Linked DNA regions of Homo sapiens: regions 2, 3 and 4 are each reported to be linked to region 1. The links are microRNA targets in miRTarBase. Many come from high-throughput screens and were not tested one by one. Region 1 holds a microRNA gene; each other region holds the end of a gene's coding sequence.
The links. Region 1 holds the annotated microRNA hsa-miR-6801-5p (UGGUCAGAGGCAGCAGGAAAUGA, at 3,234-3,256, shown strand). A microRNA usually pairs through its seed, bases 2 to 8, with sites in the 3' UTR of a target mRNA and lowers its output. Matches are read on the target gene's strand: a 7mer-m8 pairs with bases 2 to 8, a 7mer-A1 pairs with bases 2 to 7 and ends in A, and an 8mer does both.

Region 2: the mRNA of INTS7 is a reported target of hsa-miR-6801-5p. Seed matches in the 3' UTR shown: 8mer at 2,765-2,772.
Region 3: miRTarBase lists NIPA2 as a target of hsa-miR-6801-5p. Seed matches in the 3' UTR shown: 7mer-A1 at 682-688.
Region 4: the mRNA of HEATR5A is a reported target of hsa-miR-6801-5p. Seed matches in the 3' UTR shown: 7mer-A1 at 1,401-1,407.

Annotation. Positions count from the first base shown.
Region 1 is chr19:52,218,792-52,223,188 of GRCh38, forward strand. MIR6801 (microRNA 6801) reads left to right here and starts at 3,229; the gene lies at 3,229-3,307. PPP2R1A (protein phosphatase 2 scaffold subunit Aalpha) reads left to right here. Exons shown (of 15, transcript NM_014225.6): 10 at 900-1,073; 11 at 1,398-1,458; 12 at 2,188-2,342; 13 at 3,308-3,450. RefSeq lists an enhancer at 2,769-3,968.
Region 2 is chr1:211,938,385-211,942,384 of GRCh38, forward strand. INTS7 (integrator complex subunit 7) reads right to left here. Exons shown (of 20, transcript NM_015434.4): 20 at 2,019-3,727. The coding sequence ends at 3,440. Among named protein-coding and RNA genes, the nearest start is that of INTS7, 95 kb to the right of the region's middle. RefSeq lists an enhancer at 521-600.
Region 3 is chr15:22,866,532-22,870,928 of GRCh38, forward strand. NIPA2 (NIPA magnesium transporter 2) reads left to right here. Exons shown (of 8, transcript NM_030922.7): 8 at 1-1,853. The coding sequence ends at 316. It overlaps CYFIP1 (cytoplasmic FMR1 interacting protein 1), which reads right to left. Exons shown (of 31, transcript NM_014608.6): 31 at 521-3,661. The coding sequence ends at 3,497. Among named protein-coding and RNA genes, the nearest start is that of NIPA2, 30 kb to the left of the region's middle.
Region 4 is chr14:31,289,797-31,294,193 of GRCh38, reverse strand. It overlaps HEATR5A (HEAT repeat containing 5A), which reads left to right. Exons shown (of 36, transcript NM_015473.4): 35 at 90-303; 36 at 582-2,406. The coding sequence ends at 889. Among named protein-coding and RNA genes, the nearest start is that of HECTD1, 84 kb to the right of the region's middle.

The sequences.
Region 1 (4,397 bases):
CAAGTGCGCTAGGACTGGAGCATTTTTTGCTCCAGTTTCACCTTCAGCAAGCGCTATATGGTAATCGTGTGCTGGCAGCCAGCCTGTCTCAGGGCAGCTTCTCTTAGAAGAAAAGAACCAGCATGGTTTTCTTGGTGTGAGGAATTCATCTGACTTATATTTGAGATTTCCATTTTAGATTTATAAACTTTATATTTTACATTTTGACTCTCACCAGAATTTATAAACTTGTCTAAATGAAAAAGGCTACCTTTTTACTGGTGCACCAAAAATAAGTCTTTTTAAATGGGTGAGGTATAGTCTCTGAGCCTTCTCTTCTCATGCACATGTTCAGCAGCTTGAGGCTCACACAGCAAGGGCTGGAGCTGGGCAAGGGCCAGTCCTATCCTCGGAATGTGCAGGGTTTCAACAGCCCAAGCCTGCCAGGCTTGTTCACTTGGTTATTGATTCATTTCAGTGCTCCTTTATTTATTTATTTTTTTAGACTAAAATAGTTTTAATAAGGAAATAGTTTTCTTCCTTCCCTTCTCCCATGTTGTGGATTGATACCCAGAAAGGAACCCTTGTTAGCAAGCAGCGGAGCTAGGATTAGAAGAATCATGTCTGCCTGTTTTTTCCAGGGTGCTGTATTTTCCTACTGTGATTCTTAAAGTCTTTTCAAAATGGATAAACATTTCTTGTGATACTATTGTAAGGTTTAAAAATCTGCTTAAGTTAGTGATCCATGCTGCTTGCTTTTTGTGTGCCGTTAATGTGTTCCCAGAACGGGGAGCTGGGCTTGGACAGGAGTAGTCCCTCGGGAGATGTCCATAAAAGTTGATGCAGCTGAGCTCTTTCCATCCTGTCCTGGGTTGCTGTGTGCATTGCATTCTCTCAGAATCCTTCTTTCCTCTCCTCAGTGCCCTGAGGTACGGCTGAACATCATCTCTAACCTGGACTGTGTGAACGAGGTGATTGGCATCCGGCAGCTGTCCCAGTCCCTGCTCCCTGCCATTGTGGAGCTGGCTGAGGACGCCAAGTGGCGGGTGCGGCTGGCCATCATTGAGTACATGCCCCTCCTGGCTGGACAGCTGGTGAGTGAGGAGGCCTGGGGGCCAGGCAGTGCTGCCTCAGGGGAGGTGCAGTATGTCCAGGGCTGTGATGGGGAAACGGGGCTTTGAAGGCTTAGTGGAGGCTGTGACAACTGCCTGGGGAGTCGAAGGAAGGGACCCAGGAAATAGGGCCTTAAAAGATGCATTGGATTCAATAAGAGAGAGGAGGGAAAGGAGCACCTCAGACAAAGTTGAGAAGTGTCCGGTCTTTCTAGGGTGGGTGTAGGTTCCATGGGATGTGGCTAGCAGCTCCCCCTGTTTGCTCTCCTGGAACGCTTACCTTGGAACCCTTGGTTTCTCCTGTAGGGAGTGGAGTTCTTTGATGAGAAACTTAACTCCTTGTGCATGGCCTGGCTTGTGGATCATGGTGAGTACCTTCACAGGAGCAGCAAGAGGAGATGGGAGCTCCAGAAAGGCAGGATGGATTGGCTGGGGCTGTGGCGGGCAGTGGAGGAGGCTAGAGTCACTCCCCACGCCGCTGGATGCTCGTATGGACCAGCTCGCATGCTTGTTAGAGTCCTAGAGAAGTGTTGAGTGGGAGGAGGACGAAACAGATCACCCAGGGGTTGCCTGGTATAGTGGAGAGCCAGAGGGCCACTGAGCAGCCAGACCAGGGTTTTGAATCCTGCCCTTGGGGCTGTCAGATCTAAAACAAGTCACCTGCTGTCTTTGAATGAGCCCCACACTCATTCTTTGAAACTTCTTATTCTGGTGCCTTGGGGCCATTATGAGAATGGCTCATTGTTTACACTAAGAGAGGTAAAAAATAAAAGGTAATATTTATCTCTGTGAAGCCCTGTTTGAAGTAATAAGTGCCACATAATTTAGGCAAATCACTTCTTAGAGCCTTAGTTTGCCCATCTGTAAAATGAAGCCAGTAGTGGAACCTACCTCTTGGAGTGGTTGAAAAGATACTGTATAAAAAAAAACAGTTACTAGATATAGCACATAGTAAGTCCTTTTTTCTCTCTTTGGCTCACATGCAGCCTGGCACCTAGGGGCTGCTTTGTAAGCCATGGTGAGTGTGACCTACATTTTGCCCACATCAGTTCTTCACCTCCAAATCCCTGTCTCTCTCACCCTCACCCTTCTGCAGTATATGCCATCCGCGAGGCAGCCACCAGCAACCTGAAGAAGCTAGTGGAAAAGTTTGGGAAGGAGTGGGCCCATGCCACAATCATCCCCAAGGTCTTGGCCATGTCCGGAGACCCCAACTACCTGCACCGCATGACTACGCTCTTCTGCATCAATGTGAGCCTTCCACCTGCCTGCTGGCCCATCCCTAGGGAACTGGAGCGCGTGGGAGAGGAGGGATGCTAGAGGGTTCCCCAAGGGAGACACCTGGCTTGGGAATGGAGACATGGAGTGCATCTTCTATCCAGAGATGAGTCCTTGGGGAACTGCAGGCAAGGGGGTGGGGCTCCCAGGGTCAGGGTCATAGGGCCTCTGGGACTGGGGACTTGGATGGTGAGGGACCCAGGGCCTGGGAGACTTGACCTGTTGGAGCAGCGATCTCAAGCTTTATGAGCACCCCTCTCCTTCCCTGAGAAATGTGTGTCTCTATCTGTGGTGCGTTGGGTGAGTGTATGGGCTCTAGGTCAGACCTAGTTTTAAATTCTGGTACTGCCATATATTAGCTATGGACCTTGGATAGTTACCTAACCGATGCTTTGGTCTTCTCATTTGTAAATAATTCATACTGTAAAGAATTCATACTGGTAATCACAGCCTGGTGAGCGTGAAGATTAATCAGGTTATACACGCACAGGGCTTAGAACAGTTATGCTACAGGTAGGAAGTGCTCCTGTCTATTTGCTTTTCCTACGATTATAATTATCTCATGTACTACTTATTTATGTGTAAACCATACACAGGGCTAGAAAGGAAGGGATTTAAAAATAAATATAACTAAGTGTTCTGATCATTTCTTCCCACGCCACTCTCTGGAGAGCATTGCTTTAAGGAGGGATCCTAGGGCTTGGTAATTAAGGTCGATCTCCAGAATAATTAAGGGAAGCCTGAGGACAGAGAAACTGGGACATGGTGTTAGGATGGTGTTAGTGGAGTTGGGAGATTCACTCCACTAACTGAGTCACCCGTATTGCTCAGCCTCTGTGGGGCCTGATGATCACCAGAGTGGCCTGGTCAGAGGCAGCAGGAAATGAGAGTTAGCCAGGAGCTTTGCATACTCACCCCTGCCACTCACTGGCCCCCAGGTGCTGTCTGAGGTCTGTGGGCAGGACATCACCACCAAGCACATGCTACCCACGGTTCTGCGCATGGCTGGGGACCCGGTTGCCAATGTCCGCTTCAATGTGGCCAAGTCTCTGCAGAAGATAGGGCCCATCCTGGACAACAGGTGAGGTCTGGATACTCCCCCACACACTGGCAGGGGCTTCTTGTGGGCACCTTAATCTTTGACCTTTGAAGGTAGAGCCCAGGGTCAGAGGCCTGGCAGCGCTCCTTGCTTGCTGTGTGACCTTGGCTCCCTTCCCTTCTCAAGGTGTGTTTTCTCAACTGTAAAATGAACATCACAGCATGAAATAGAAAGAGGGGGTGATGGGTTGGCAGTCCTGTATACTAGCAACAAGTCATTAGAAAATGAAATCACCTTATGTTTTATATGTAAGTATGTGTATAATTTATAATTGCACCAAAAATATCAAATAGCCAGGAATAAATTCAATGAAAGATGTGTATGTAACACCTCTAATGTAAACTGTAAAACACTAATGTGAGAAATTAAAGCAGACCTGACCAAGGTGGGCGGATCAGTTGAGGTCAGGAGTTCACGACCAGCCTGGCCAACATGGCGAAACCCCGTCTCTAGTAAAAATACAAAAAATTAGCCGGTGCGGTAGCACTCACCTGTAATCCTAGCTATTTGGGAGGCTGAAGGCAAGAGAATTGCTTGAATCCAGGAGGTGGAGGTTGCAGTGAGCTGAGATCATGCCACTGCACTCCAGCCTGGGCGATAGAGCGAGACTGTCTCAAAAAAAATTAAAGCAGACCTACATAATATTCACGGATGGGACAGTTCCCTGAACTCATCTTTAGATTCAGTATAAGCCCAATAATCTTAACAGGTTCTTTAGTGGAAAATTGACACTTCTAATGAACAAAGTTGTCTGATTTACACTACCAGAGACGAAGACTTATGACACCACAATAATTAAAATAGATGTGAACACAAGCATATTTAAATCGCCCAATAGAATGGAATCAAGGGTACAGAAACAGTCCCACATGTGTTTAACAGTAGGCATCTCTGCAGTTCAGTGGAGAAATGTATGTTTTTTAAAAAAC
Region 2 (4,000 bases), not on the chromosome of region 1:
ATAAAAGCAAATGCTTATATATCTGTTTTACTATATGCCAAGCATGTTCTAAGTAAATTCTATACTAACTCACTTAATTCTCATACCTACCCCATGAAACACTAATATGTTTCTCTATTAGGAATAAGGAAATTGAGGCATAGAGAGACTAAGTAGCTTGTCCAAGGTCATAAAGTTAAGATTGGAACCTCGGCAGTATGGCCCCAAAGGCTGGTGCTCTCAGTCACTGGACTACACAGCAGTCCCCCTTATCAGTAGGAGATACGTTCCAAGATCCCCAGTGGATGCCTATGACTGAGGATAGTACCAAACCCTATATACACTACATTTTTTCCTATACATACACACCTATGCCAAAGTTTAATTTATAAAATAGGCACAGTAAAGAGATTAAGTGATTATAAAATAGAACAATTGTAACAATATACTGTAATAAAAATTATGTGAATGTGGTCTATCTTCACCTCTGGGAACTGAAACTGAAAAGCAAAGTGAAAGTGAAAAGCAAAAACTGCAGATAAGGAAACACTACTGCACTGCAAAGTGACGAAGCACTGAGAAAAACTAGTCCTGTCTTCCTAGCTTTAACCAGCAAGTGCCCTTCATATTTCTAAATTTAGGGAACATGCCCACTTCACAATTAGTATGCATCTTTCTTTTCTGCATCTCATTTTTCTTTTCATTCATTAGTGTAGTGTTGAAGTTATAAACAGCTTCCCCCACCACAAATAACCATTTAACAGTTGATGCCAAAAATTCAGTAGATATTTTACTAAACAAAATCAGAGTTCCAATCCTGGATCTAATGGACATACTAAAATAAGTCTTTCTTGCTTCAGAGTTATGTTCAGTTCAGTTATACTCTGAACTTCTTGGACTTGCTTTTATTTTAATAATTCCTGGCCAGGCACGGTGGCTCACACCTGTAATCCTAGCACTTTGGGAGGCCAAGACGGGCGATCACCAGAGTTTGGGACCATCCTGGCCAACATGGTGAAACCCATCTCTACTAAAAAATATAAAAACTAACCAGGCGTGGTGGCACATGCCTGTAATCCCAGCTACTCGGGAGACTGAGGCAGGAGAATCACCGGAGCCTGGGAGGTAGAGGTTGCAGTGAGCTGAGATTGCACCACTGCACTCCAGCCTGGGCAACAGAGCGAGACTCTGTCTCAAAAAAAAAAAAAAAAAATTCCTTTCTGAGTTTGTGCCAGGAGCCCATAATACACCAAGTTAAAAAGTTCATAAACATAGCTATCAAAACCTATCTTTTAAGAACATAACATTTGGGAAGTTCTCAAAGGGAATTGATGGCTTACAAGATTTGCTTCTTTTTTGGAGAAATCTACCTTGAATGGCACCAGAAGCTTGAAATCCACATTGTAAACTTTAACCCTGAAAATAGCCACTTAATTACAAATAAAAAAGATCTCCAATTTAAGAAATGTTTTTGTTTGTTTTTAGTCTTTCAGTCACTTGATAATACAACTCTAGGCTGGAATCCAGAAAACCAGTCTAATTCAGTCACTTGACAGACAAAAAAAAAAACCCCTAAGATGTAGAGGTAAAGTGACTTGCTTGGTCACACAGCTAATTCACCAGAACCAAGAGTGAAACCCAGGCTTTCTGATTCAGCTGTTTCCACACCTGGTAAAAGAACAAGGGGTTCTGCACTGCTCTGGCAATTTTTCCTAAGCACGTGTTCCCAGGTGCTGAGATGACTGTGTAGGTTGTGTGAACCTCATACAACTGGGCTGCATCTGAAGAGATGTCATTCAACCGTGGACACTGTAGATCTGTACACATTTTATGAGAATGTTCTGGCTGTTAGCAGTACAATGGGTTGTGCTCATGAAGGCAAGCAATCTTGGAGAGACCCAAGTTGCAAATCACTTCTCAGTCCCAGAGGCCGCATGACAAGAAAGAAAAAAAAAACAACAACCCCTTTTTATTTTTTATCTTAAGCTCCATTCTCCTTTGAATTAATGTTGACTTTGAAGAGAAAAAGGCAAAACACAAGCAAAGAAACAGATATTTATTTAAAAAGGAAATTCCAGGGAAAGTACCCTGCTTTACCTTAGGAGCTGCATCCGGCCAAATTACTTATAGCATCGGCATCTGCAACCATATGATCCCTGATGTTTAGAAATCGTGATCCTGAAGCCCTAAATGATCCCCAATCAAAAAGCAGTTAAGTTATATCTACCATACTGTGCTAAGAAAGTCTATTTTATCATGGTTTTCAACCAGAATTAAAATAGGAAAAAAGGGGGTTTTCTGGCTAACCAGAAAACTCTGTTCCCTGAGCATCCCAACAAACTGAGCCTGTGTAATAAAGAGACTGCTCTCTCTAAACAATCAGTCTAGCATAACTCATCAAGTATAAACCAAACCAATCACCAACCAAAGGAAAAGATCCACCCCTTCTAACTTAAAACATTGAAGATATTAAATGAGTGTTCTTCACTTTTGGAAACAATGTGAAATGTCTGTATTATACACAGTTGCAGACACATCAGAAAAAACAAATTAATTTTCTATGAAATTGCTAGCTGCTCTTTGTTTCAATTAAATATGAAAATAATAAAGACTGCTTTAGCACAGGAAGAGATAAATATGTGGTTGAACTAATACAGCAGGATGTTTCAATACTGTTAGACTGTGGGCTTTCATAATCCAGAAGGCTGGATGTTGCACGGAACACTTTCAAGTCCATCTACAGAAGGACTCAGGTTCTGCTACCATGGATAAACCTTGTAGTGACTGGTCAGAACCTCCCAATGAACAACTCAGAATCCTAGGTCTAAGTCAGGCAGCAAATGATGTATTTTGGAAGAGTAGCGGTCAAATTTACCAATTCAGTGATCTCAACATGTGACTATTCTTGAAAGAAAAAAAAGCTTGGCAACAGAAAAAACTAATAATAAAACAAGAAAGAACAATCTTTCTGGCCAGGATCCCAGTTATTTTTCAGACAAAATGTATTTATTTATTTTTTTGAGACGGAGTCTCGCTCTGTCGCCCAGGCTGGAGCACAGTCTCGGCTCACTGCAAGCTCCGCCTCCCAGGTTCACACCATTCTCCTGCCTCAGCCTCCCAAGTAGCTGGGACTACAGGCGCCTGCCACCATGCTTGGCTAATTTTTTTGTATTTTTTAGTGGAGACGGGGTTTCACTGTGTTAGCCAGGATGGTCTTGATCTCCTCGTGAGCCGCCCACCTCAGCCTCCCAAAGTGCTGGGATTACAGGCGTGAGCAACCACGCCCAGCTGTCAGACAAAATTTTTAAGAAAACAAAATTTTTTCCAGAATATTACATTACAAAAATCAATGAATAAATGAACTACACTGTAACTTTAATACTTATTCCATATGAAAAACCAAACTGTTTCTGGCAATTTGATTGATCTCTTGAGAGTCTGCAGTGCATTCATTCCATGGTTAAAACCGTGTGTAGGCATTGCGTTGCTGCTGCTGCTGTAATGGCTGCTGGGCTTGCTGCTGTTGTAAGCGAATTTGCTGGGAATAAGGGTCTTCCAGGGATTTTACAAATATGGTAGTTCTGGGACCAGTCTTCCATACTATACCATTGGCATCTTTCACAGAAGATTCCACTGTAATGTTGTGTGTTCCAAGGATAGCAAAGTTCAACAGAAATTGAGTACTGAAGTAATCATTATGAGGTTCAACCCTTTGCTCCATCTCATTGGTCATGTTGTCAATGGGTATCTGCAATGAAACAATTGTTAACTAACAACAATGGCTAACATTTCTTCAGTGCTTACTATGAGTTAGGCCCTGTTCTAAGAGCTTATTTAGACCATGCAGACAATAAAAAATTAGGTACTGCTATCATCCTTGCTTCACCGATGAGGAGTCTAAGGCAGACAGGTTAAGTAATGTCTCCAAAGTCACATGATTAGTGAACGGAGTAGGAATCTGAACACAGGCAGACTACCTCCAGGGCCTACACTCTGAACTACTAAGTGATGCTCCTCACTC
Region 3 (4,397 bases), not on the chromosome of region 1:
TACAACATCAGTTTTAACTTGTTCAGCTATTCTTTTTAAGGAGTGGCAAGATATGCCTGTTGACGATGTCATTGGTACTTTGAGTGGCTTCTTTACAATCATTGTGGGGATATTCTTGTTGCATGCCTTTAAAGACGTCAGCTTTAGTCTAGCAAGTCTGCCTGTGTCTTTTCGAAAAGACGAGAAAGCAATGAATGGCAATCTCTCTAATATGTATGAAGTTCTTAATAATAATGAAGAAAGCTTAACCTGTGGAATCGAACAACACACTGGTGAAAATGTCTCCCGAAGAAATGGAAATCTGACAGCTTTTTAAGAAAGGTGTAATTAAAGGTTAATCTGTGATTGTTATGAAGTGAATTTGAATATCATCAGAATGTGTCTGAAAAAACATTGTCCTCAAATAATGTTCTTTAAAGGCAATCTTTTTAAAGATTTCACTAATTTGGACCAAGAAATTACTTTTCTTGTATTTAAACAAACAATGGTAGCTCACTAAAATGACCTCAGCACATGACGATTTCTATTAACATTTTATTGTTGTAGAAGTATTTTACATTTTCATCCCTTCTCCAAAAGCCGAATGCACTAATGACAGTTTTAAGTCTATGAAAATGCTTTATTTTTTCATTGGTGATGAAAGTCTGAAATGTGCATTTGTCATCCCCACTCCATCAATCCCTGACCATGTAAGGCTTTTTTATTTTAAAAAAACAGAGTTATCCCAATACATTATCCTGTGATTTACCTTACCTACAAAAGTGGCTCCTGTTTGTTTGATGATGATTGGTTTTATTTTTGAAATATTTATTAAGGGAAAACTAAGTTACTGAATGAAGGAACCTCTTTCTTACAAAACAAAAAAAAGGGCAGAAATCACCCCAAGGAACGATTTCTCAGGTTGAGATGATCACCGTGAATCCGGCTTCCTCTGAGCATTCGATGGCCTTAGCACCTCATCAAGCCAGCACATCCTGCCTGCTGTTGCAGCCTGGCTGGGTTTATTCTTCAGTTACCCTAATCCCATGATGCCTGGAACCTTGATTACCGTTTTACATCAGCTCTTGTACTTTTCAGTATATTTTCATAATGAGTTATATTGTCATTTAGACTTTGAACAGCTCTGGGAAATAGAAGACTAGGGTTGTTTCTTAAATTTAGCTCATGTTATAATAAAAAGTTGAAATGAAGTTCTTATTCTAAAAGTCTGAATGCTTAGAACAAACTTAACATGTTTATAGAATATGGTCTCTTTGTACCAAGTACTTTGCTTAAGAGCTCCTTTGGGCCACTACATATTTTGGTTTCTAGAAAATGTTTGTTTATGAAGAAGTCGATGGAAAACTGCAAACATATGCAGAAAAGGTAGAATAATAAAAAAGGTCTAATGAACTCCATTCAGCTTTGAACCTATCCACTCATAACCATTGACTGGCCTTTAAAAAAAAGTATTGGCAGAATTAATTTCCACCTAGGTGATGGGAAGAAAGTGTTCGCCTGTTCCAGCCTGTGGCTCCTGCCTGGAGGTTACCCAGTGGTGCGCCAGCGCCAAGCCATCACTCCCCGAGGGCCTCCCCTGCCAATGGTGCTGGTATCCCATGCAGCTCACCACTGGCTGCGTGGAAACTCCCTTTTTTCCAACTTTATTATTGGCCTTCTAAGGAGCTGTTTTAGATGTTTTTTCTAACTGCCTCCTCCCATGCCATTTTAATACTACAGATGTACTACGTATCTGTTTATATACTGTACCTACATCTGTGCTTTGTACATAAAAGAACCAGTTTTCTCCCCCTTGAGGACAGAGACTCATTTGAACATGCATAGGTTAATAAATAATAAATTCTTATTTAACATTTTGTAGCACTTGAGATTGTCTTATACCTAAGGTATTACATATTTGGTATATAATTAAGCCTTATAAAACTTGGTAATTGATTAAGTTTTACCATAATTTTTCATCCTATTCTGTAGTTTCTAAGATAAGCACAGCTACCACCTCTAAATCTGCAGCAGAATGCTGGCCCCAGGGTTATTAATTCACATTACCAAAAGCATTTTTAGGGAACTTTTTATAAAGAAAGAATAATTGTTTGTTAGGCTTCATGTCACTTGAGTGAGTTTGGCAGTGTAACAGGATGGTTCGTACACTTACTACTTTTCTGTGCCGTGCATCATATGCTTCTGGACAGTTTCCAAAGGCCTCCGGAAAAGTAGGCGAGGCCTGCTTTTTATGGCAACTTGGCATCCATAGAAAATTTTAAAATTGGTGAAGGTTGCAATACTCCAAATAATGTAAAATGACTGCCAGGCTACAATATAAAGTGAGTTCAGTTAATCATGCTGGACTTGTGTTTATCTGTAGTATTCATCTACAATAAACAGGCATAGCATCTTTTTCCATTCAGTTAGTTAGGATTTTCAGAACCTCATTGCCTTAGTACTTTTTAAAATATGGCTTTAGTTTCTCAAACATGTTCGTGACTCTACTGGTAGTCTAGACCGATTGTTTTTCATTCTGACAGATCATGTGAACCAGCTCCAGCCATGTGAGCCCTGTGGATCGGGGACAGCTGAAGGCTGGACTCGGTGCTCCCGGTCCCTTTGTGCAGCACCCACTGGGCCTGACTGATCTCCTCCCACATTGCTGGCTTCCTCCAGGTCATGGGCACAGGTAACAGAGAGGCACTGAGTAGCCTCTTCATATCCAGATTGGAGCAGCCAACACGGCCGTTTTACACCTCATTTGCCTGCGGAACCCTAAATATAAAGCTAAACCTGTGCTGAGGTGAGCGGTATATGGGATGGTGTCACGGTCCCATCCCACCTCAGCCTTAGAGGTGACCTCCATCCCAGCTGGCCTGGTATGTGAGTTCAGGTTAGAGTTCCTTGCCAAGCCAGGCAGCACAGGGTTAGAGTAAATAAATGAACACAAATAGATCTCATTAGTTTTATTTCTATAACCTTTCGATCTGATGTCACGTTAGATTTTGTCACAACTGGATTTAGTGGAAGCAGGGGAATCAAGTTCACTATTTTCTGAAACACACAAAAAAGGGATGGGAACAATGACTTAGAACTAAGATTGCTCATAAAAGACCATCAGAAAGATCCCTAAACAAAAGCTAAATAGTTACAGTTAATGGTAACTGGCAAGGGATTTAATGCATTTGCTGGTATTAAGTTTCTTATGGAATGAATGAATGAACCCAGCAGCATTTTATGACACAGCTGCCAGAACATCCCATAGAAAAACAATTTTGTAGGAACGTGATGGCAACAATCAGCAGCCAATATTCTCAAGAGTTCCTAATTACCAAAAGCATATACAATTTTAGTCTAGAAAAATAAGTCAATTTTATAAAATTAAGTTTTTAGATCGAAAAGCACCCCCTTTAACAGGTACAGAGATACTGAAAAATAGTCCCTAAAAATCTCACTAAATAGTTTACGGAGAGAAAGGCATGCCATGTTGAGTTACGGAGTGCAGCGCGTGCCCTCAGCTGCTGGCGAGGGACTGGTGGATGGGCGGCTGGAAGCAGCGCACATGCTCCACTGGCGTGCCCTCCCCGTCGCCTGACTTCAGGTACTTATCCAGGATGGTGATGATCTCATCATTGAGAATCTGGAACTTGCGAATTCTCTCCACCATCTTCTTCAAAGGCTACAACCATCAAAGTGAGGATGTTTTACTATTAACACTTCAACATTTATTCTTCATGTTTCAAAATGTCAGGATTCTTATATTTTCTCAGAAAAATAATAGCAAACGGAATTGACACACATACTGTTCTTTTTGGGTTTTTTTTTGTAAGATAGGGTCTCACTCTGACGCCCAGGCTGGAGTGCAGTGGCATGATCACGGCTCACTGTAGCCTCAAGACATCCTCCCACCTCAGCCTCCTGAGTAGCTGGGACCACAGGCGTGTACCACCACACGCAGCTAATTTTTAAATTTAATTTTGTAAAGACAAGGTCTTATTATGCTGTCCAGGATGGTCTTGAACTCCTGAGCTCAAGCAATCCTCCTCTGCCTCAGCCTCCCAAACTGTTGGGATTACAGGTATGAGCCAGCACTCCCAGCCACATACCATCTCTTTAATGCAACAGTTGGAAGGATGAATATATTTTGAATTTAGAATCCCTCTGTTGGCTTCATGCTGCTGTAGATTCATTCATGCGCACAATTGATAGGCCTATTCCTTCCACATTGGCAATTAAGAACCTACTGTCTGCTCAAAGCTGGGGATCTCCAGATGAAGATGATGTGGTCAGTGGAGAAAGGCCAGTCAACTAACACAAGTTTTAGACTTCCAGTTTGGAAATACTGTGACGGGATACTCTGACAGACCCTCCTGCTACCACAGGAATAAAGAACACGAATTAAGAACATACACGCA
Region 4 (4,397 bases), not on the chromosome of region 1:
CCTTCACTACTTTAAAAAGCAAAGAGTCCTCAGGGACTTTTTAAAAATTTATTTATAGTATTTGCTATTCTTTTCTCTTACCTTATTAGGTACAAATCAAGACCTACCAGCTCCTACATTCCATCTTTCAGTATCCAAATCCAGCTGTTTCCTACCCATACATTTACTCTTTAGCATCCTGTATCATGGAAAAACTGCAGGAAATAGACAAGAGAAAACCTGAAAACACTGCTGAGCTTGAGATCTTCCAAGAAGGCATAAAGGTCTTAGAAACACTGGTTACTGTTGCTGAAGAACACCATCGTAAGTGTCAGCACTAAATTCATACTCAGTCTCAACAAAAATCAGAATTTTACTGTTATTTAAATTGCAAAACAATCAGTCACATTATATCTGTATTTCACATTCATTGAAAGGTGTTATGTTAATCCCAAGTATTGATATTATTTAGTATTAATTTAGAAGAGATTGGACGAATTGTTTTCTTTAGTGGGGAAAAATGTATACAGATCAAGTGCATTTGCAGGCTTTTGTTAGAAACATTTATGTCACTGAACTTATATTATTTGTTTACTTTCTAGGCGCTCAGCTGGTGGCCTGTCTTTTGCCCATCCTCATTTCCTTCCTTTTGGATGAAAATTCTCTGGGATCAGCAACTTCCATAATGAGAAATTTACATGACTTTGCTCTACAAAATCTCATGCAAATTGGACCTCAGTATTCATCTGTTTTTAAAAGTTTAGTGGCTTCTTCTCCAGCCCTAAAAGCCCGCCTTGAGGCTGCTATAAAGGGCAATCAGGAAAGTGTCAAAGTCAAGATACCAACATCTAAATATACTAAGAGTCCTGGAAAAAACTCAAGCATCCAATTAAAGACCAGTTTCCTCTGATTTTTTTTTTGGAATAGTAAGCACCTTAATATAATAAATACTTGATCATTGCCTTTGGTGACAAAAGGGACATTGTAGACACAAGTGCCCTTAGAGGTCTAGTTGATTGTTTTACCTTAAATAGCTGTGACTCTTCAAAGTAACAGCATACTTAACATTTTTGTGTGTGTGCGTGGGGTTTGTGTTTTGTTTTGTTTTGTTTTTCTATTTAAAAAGACAATGGAGCTAACTTGCCAGGAATTTTAAGAAAGTGCTAAAGAACTAAACTTACTAAACAATCCACTGCTTTAAAAATGAAATGAATTTCTTCTAACAGTCCATACATATGTGGTATACTTAATACTGTGACAGATATAAATATGACTCTAGTGTAAATTATCTGCACTAATATTGTATCCCAATTGCTGATTTAAAATTCTGCTTTGGCCCGGCACAGTGGCTCATCCCTGTAATTCCAGCACTTTGGAAGGCCAAGGCGGGCGGATCACGAAGTCGGGAGTTTGAGACCAGCCTGACCAACATGGTGAAACCCCGTCTCTACTAAAAATACAAAAATTAGCCGGGTGTGGTGGCACACACCTGTAATCCCAGCTACTCAGGAGGCCGAGGCAGGAAAATCGCTTGAACCTGGCAGGCAGAGGTTGCAGTGAGCCAAGATTGTGCCACTGCACTCCAGCCTGGGCGACAGAGTGAGACTCCATCTAAAAAAAAAAAAAAAAAATTCTGCCTTATTCAGTAATTGTATTAAACTTTCTCTGATTTCTCCAAGAAGATAAAATGATTGGAGAGCTATTTAGGAAACCTGGTCTAGGATTATCCAGTATACAATAGTACAAATTACTTACAGCCTTACAGTGCAACATAAGATTTGGTGTCTATATCATGGTTTTCCACCATCTTTTGGTTTAGTTTATATTGGGTTCAGAAATTGAGTCTTACTCATTTTAAATAGAATAAGCCATTTCCACTATTTTTCAAATGGATTTTTCTGTTTACCTCTGTTCTTACCAATTTTGTTCATTTTCATTTGTGGCAAACATTTGTATCAATGAGTTTTAACCTAGGTTCATATCTACATTGTATTTAGATCAACTATGGGTTTATATAAATGCCAAATTTAGTACAACAAATTTAGGTCATCAGGTGAATACAAGTATTTTTTTTAACAGGAAACATTTTATTATAGAAAAAAGATTAATGATAAAGTCATATTGGTTGAAAAATATTTTTTAACTGTGTTCATGATTGTTGATTCTCCTTCTACTTCAGTGTTATACTGTGTGAATCAAGCACTGTGTCAAAACAGAGCATTTCCCTCTTAAAAATTACAAACCGAAGTGATAGAAGCATGTCAGAATTGAGAAGACATTTTGAAGCAAGAACAATGTGATGTACCTATTTTATTATGTTTGTATATAAATACTATTGTAAATTGTTCAGAGTGAAAACATTTGACAAACTCTAACACTACAATCATTTTTTCTAAATTACATAAATAAAGCTAATTTTCATTATCATTCTTGTATTTTTAAATTATTTTACCAACAAAAGATGGCAGGTTGGTTTCTCTCACATGGATTCCAGAAAATCAGCCTTTTTTCTCAGAAGAGCCCTTTCTTTGGAGCATTATTTGTGATGGTTTAGATTCTCTGTCTCTTCCTAAGTGTCTCTAGGCATTGAGTGTATATTTATTGTTCCCTTTACCTAAAATGTCCTTTTCTCTCCTGTCTTCTGTCTGGTGATTGCCCACTCCTTTTAGGCCTGGCTTAAATATCACCTTTCCTTGGTAACTCTCCTTAACACTTCTTAACTTCCTCTTACACCAATTTAACTGCTTCCTCATCTGTGTTTCCATAGTGCTTAATACATTCTTGTATGCATAAAAAATCACATTGCAATTTGTGGTTTGTTTGTTTGTTTAAGCCAAGGTCTTGTTCTGTTGCCCAGGCTGGAATGCAATGGTGTGAACACAGCTCAGTGCAGCCTTGACCTACTATGCTCAAGTGATCCTCCTGCCTCAGCCCCCCAAGTAGCAGGAACTACAGATGTGTGTCTCCAAGCCTAATTTAAAAATTTTTTTTGTAGATATGAGGTCTCACTCATATGCTGCCCAGTCTAGTCTCAAACTCCTGAGCTCAAGCTGTCCTCCCACCTTGGCCTCCCAAAGTGCTAGGATTATAGGTGTGAGCCACCACACCCAGCTCACATTGCATTTTAATATTATCTTGTCTCCCTCTTAGACTGTACCACTTCATAGGGAGAAATTATGTCTTCTGTAACTTGGCTCACTTAATAGCTATTGAATTGCACTGGTACAGGATGGATGAGGACTCATAACTTCTTTGCCAAGGCAAATGCTGAACTAGGTTGTTCTCAGGATGTAACTAATTAATTTGACTTAGGGATTTTAAAAAAGTGTTTTGTCTGTTTTAGCTGTTTCATTTAGTTTGCTCTTACACATTAAGATTTCTACTCAGTACTCTAGTATCCTGAATTATTTGGATTAAAGGTGCTTATATGAACGTCAGTAATTAGGAAAAAAACCTTTTATGTCCAGTGTAATGGAATTAGGAAATTTGAGCTACTCTTAAATGTATCTCCTTAAATCGCCTTATTTAATACAACCCTGAACTATTAAATGTATCTTTACTGATAATGAAATTAAGGCTTAACAGCTGGGGTTTGAACTCATCTTTCTGATCCCAAGCATTCATGCTGGAGACAGGAAAACTGGCAATCCCGATTCCATCAAGGTATAGCTTTTCTCCTCTTTCAGCGCTCCGGGCTCCCTCAGGAGCCTTCCTCACTCTTTGTTGAAGATATTTTCAATTACATTTCTCCAAATTACAACTAAAAAGTCTTTCGCTAATAGAATAGGGGAAAAAGTTTTTTTTTAATTATTTTCTACAGCAGTTTCTTTTTTTTTTTTTTTTTTTTTTGAGATGGAGTTTCGCTCTTGTTGCCCAGGCTGGAGTGCAATGGCCTCTGCTTCCCAGGTTCAAGTGATTCTACTGCCTCAGCCTTCCCAAGTAGCCGGGATTATAGGCATGTGCCACCACATCTGGCTAATTTTGTATTTTTAGGGGAGACGGGGTTTGTCCATGTTGGTCAGACTGGTCTTGAACTCCTGACCTCAGGTGATCCGCCCGCCTCGGCCTCCCAAAGTGCTGGGATTACAGGCATGAGCCACTGTACCTGGCCTGCCCTCTACAGTTTCTATGGGAATAGATTATATGCTTAGATATTAATGAGTCTAGTTGTAATAAAGCAGTTGCATATTAATTAGCTTGGTAACGTTACAAATTAAAAATGTTGATTAGCAACTTGGATGAAACCATCAAAATGGTATAATATTTGTCTTGAGCTTAATTTTTTTTCTAAGAGGAGAAATAGAGACAAAGCTACTAGTTAAGTCATTCTATTTAGCCCATTGCTTAAAAGCTTATGTAAAATAACACTGGATATAACACCTTTCTGTTAATAAAATATTGAGTCTAAATTTTATATA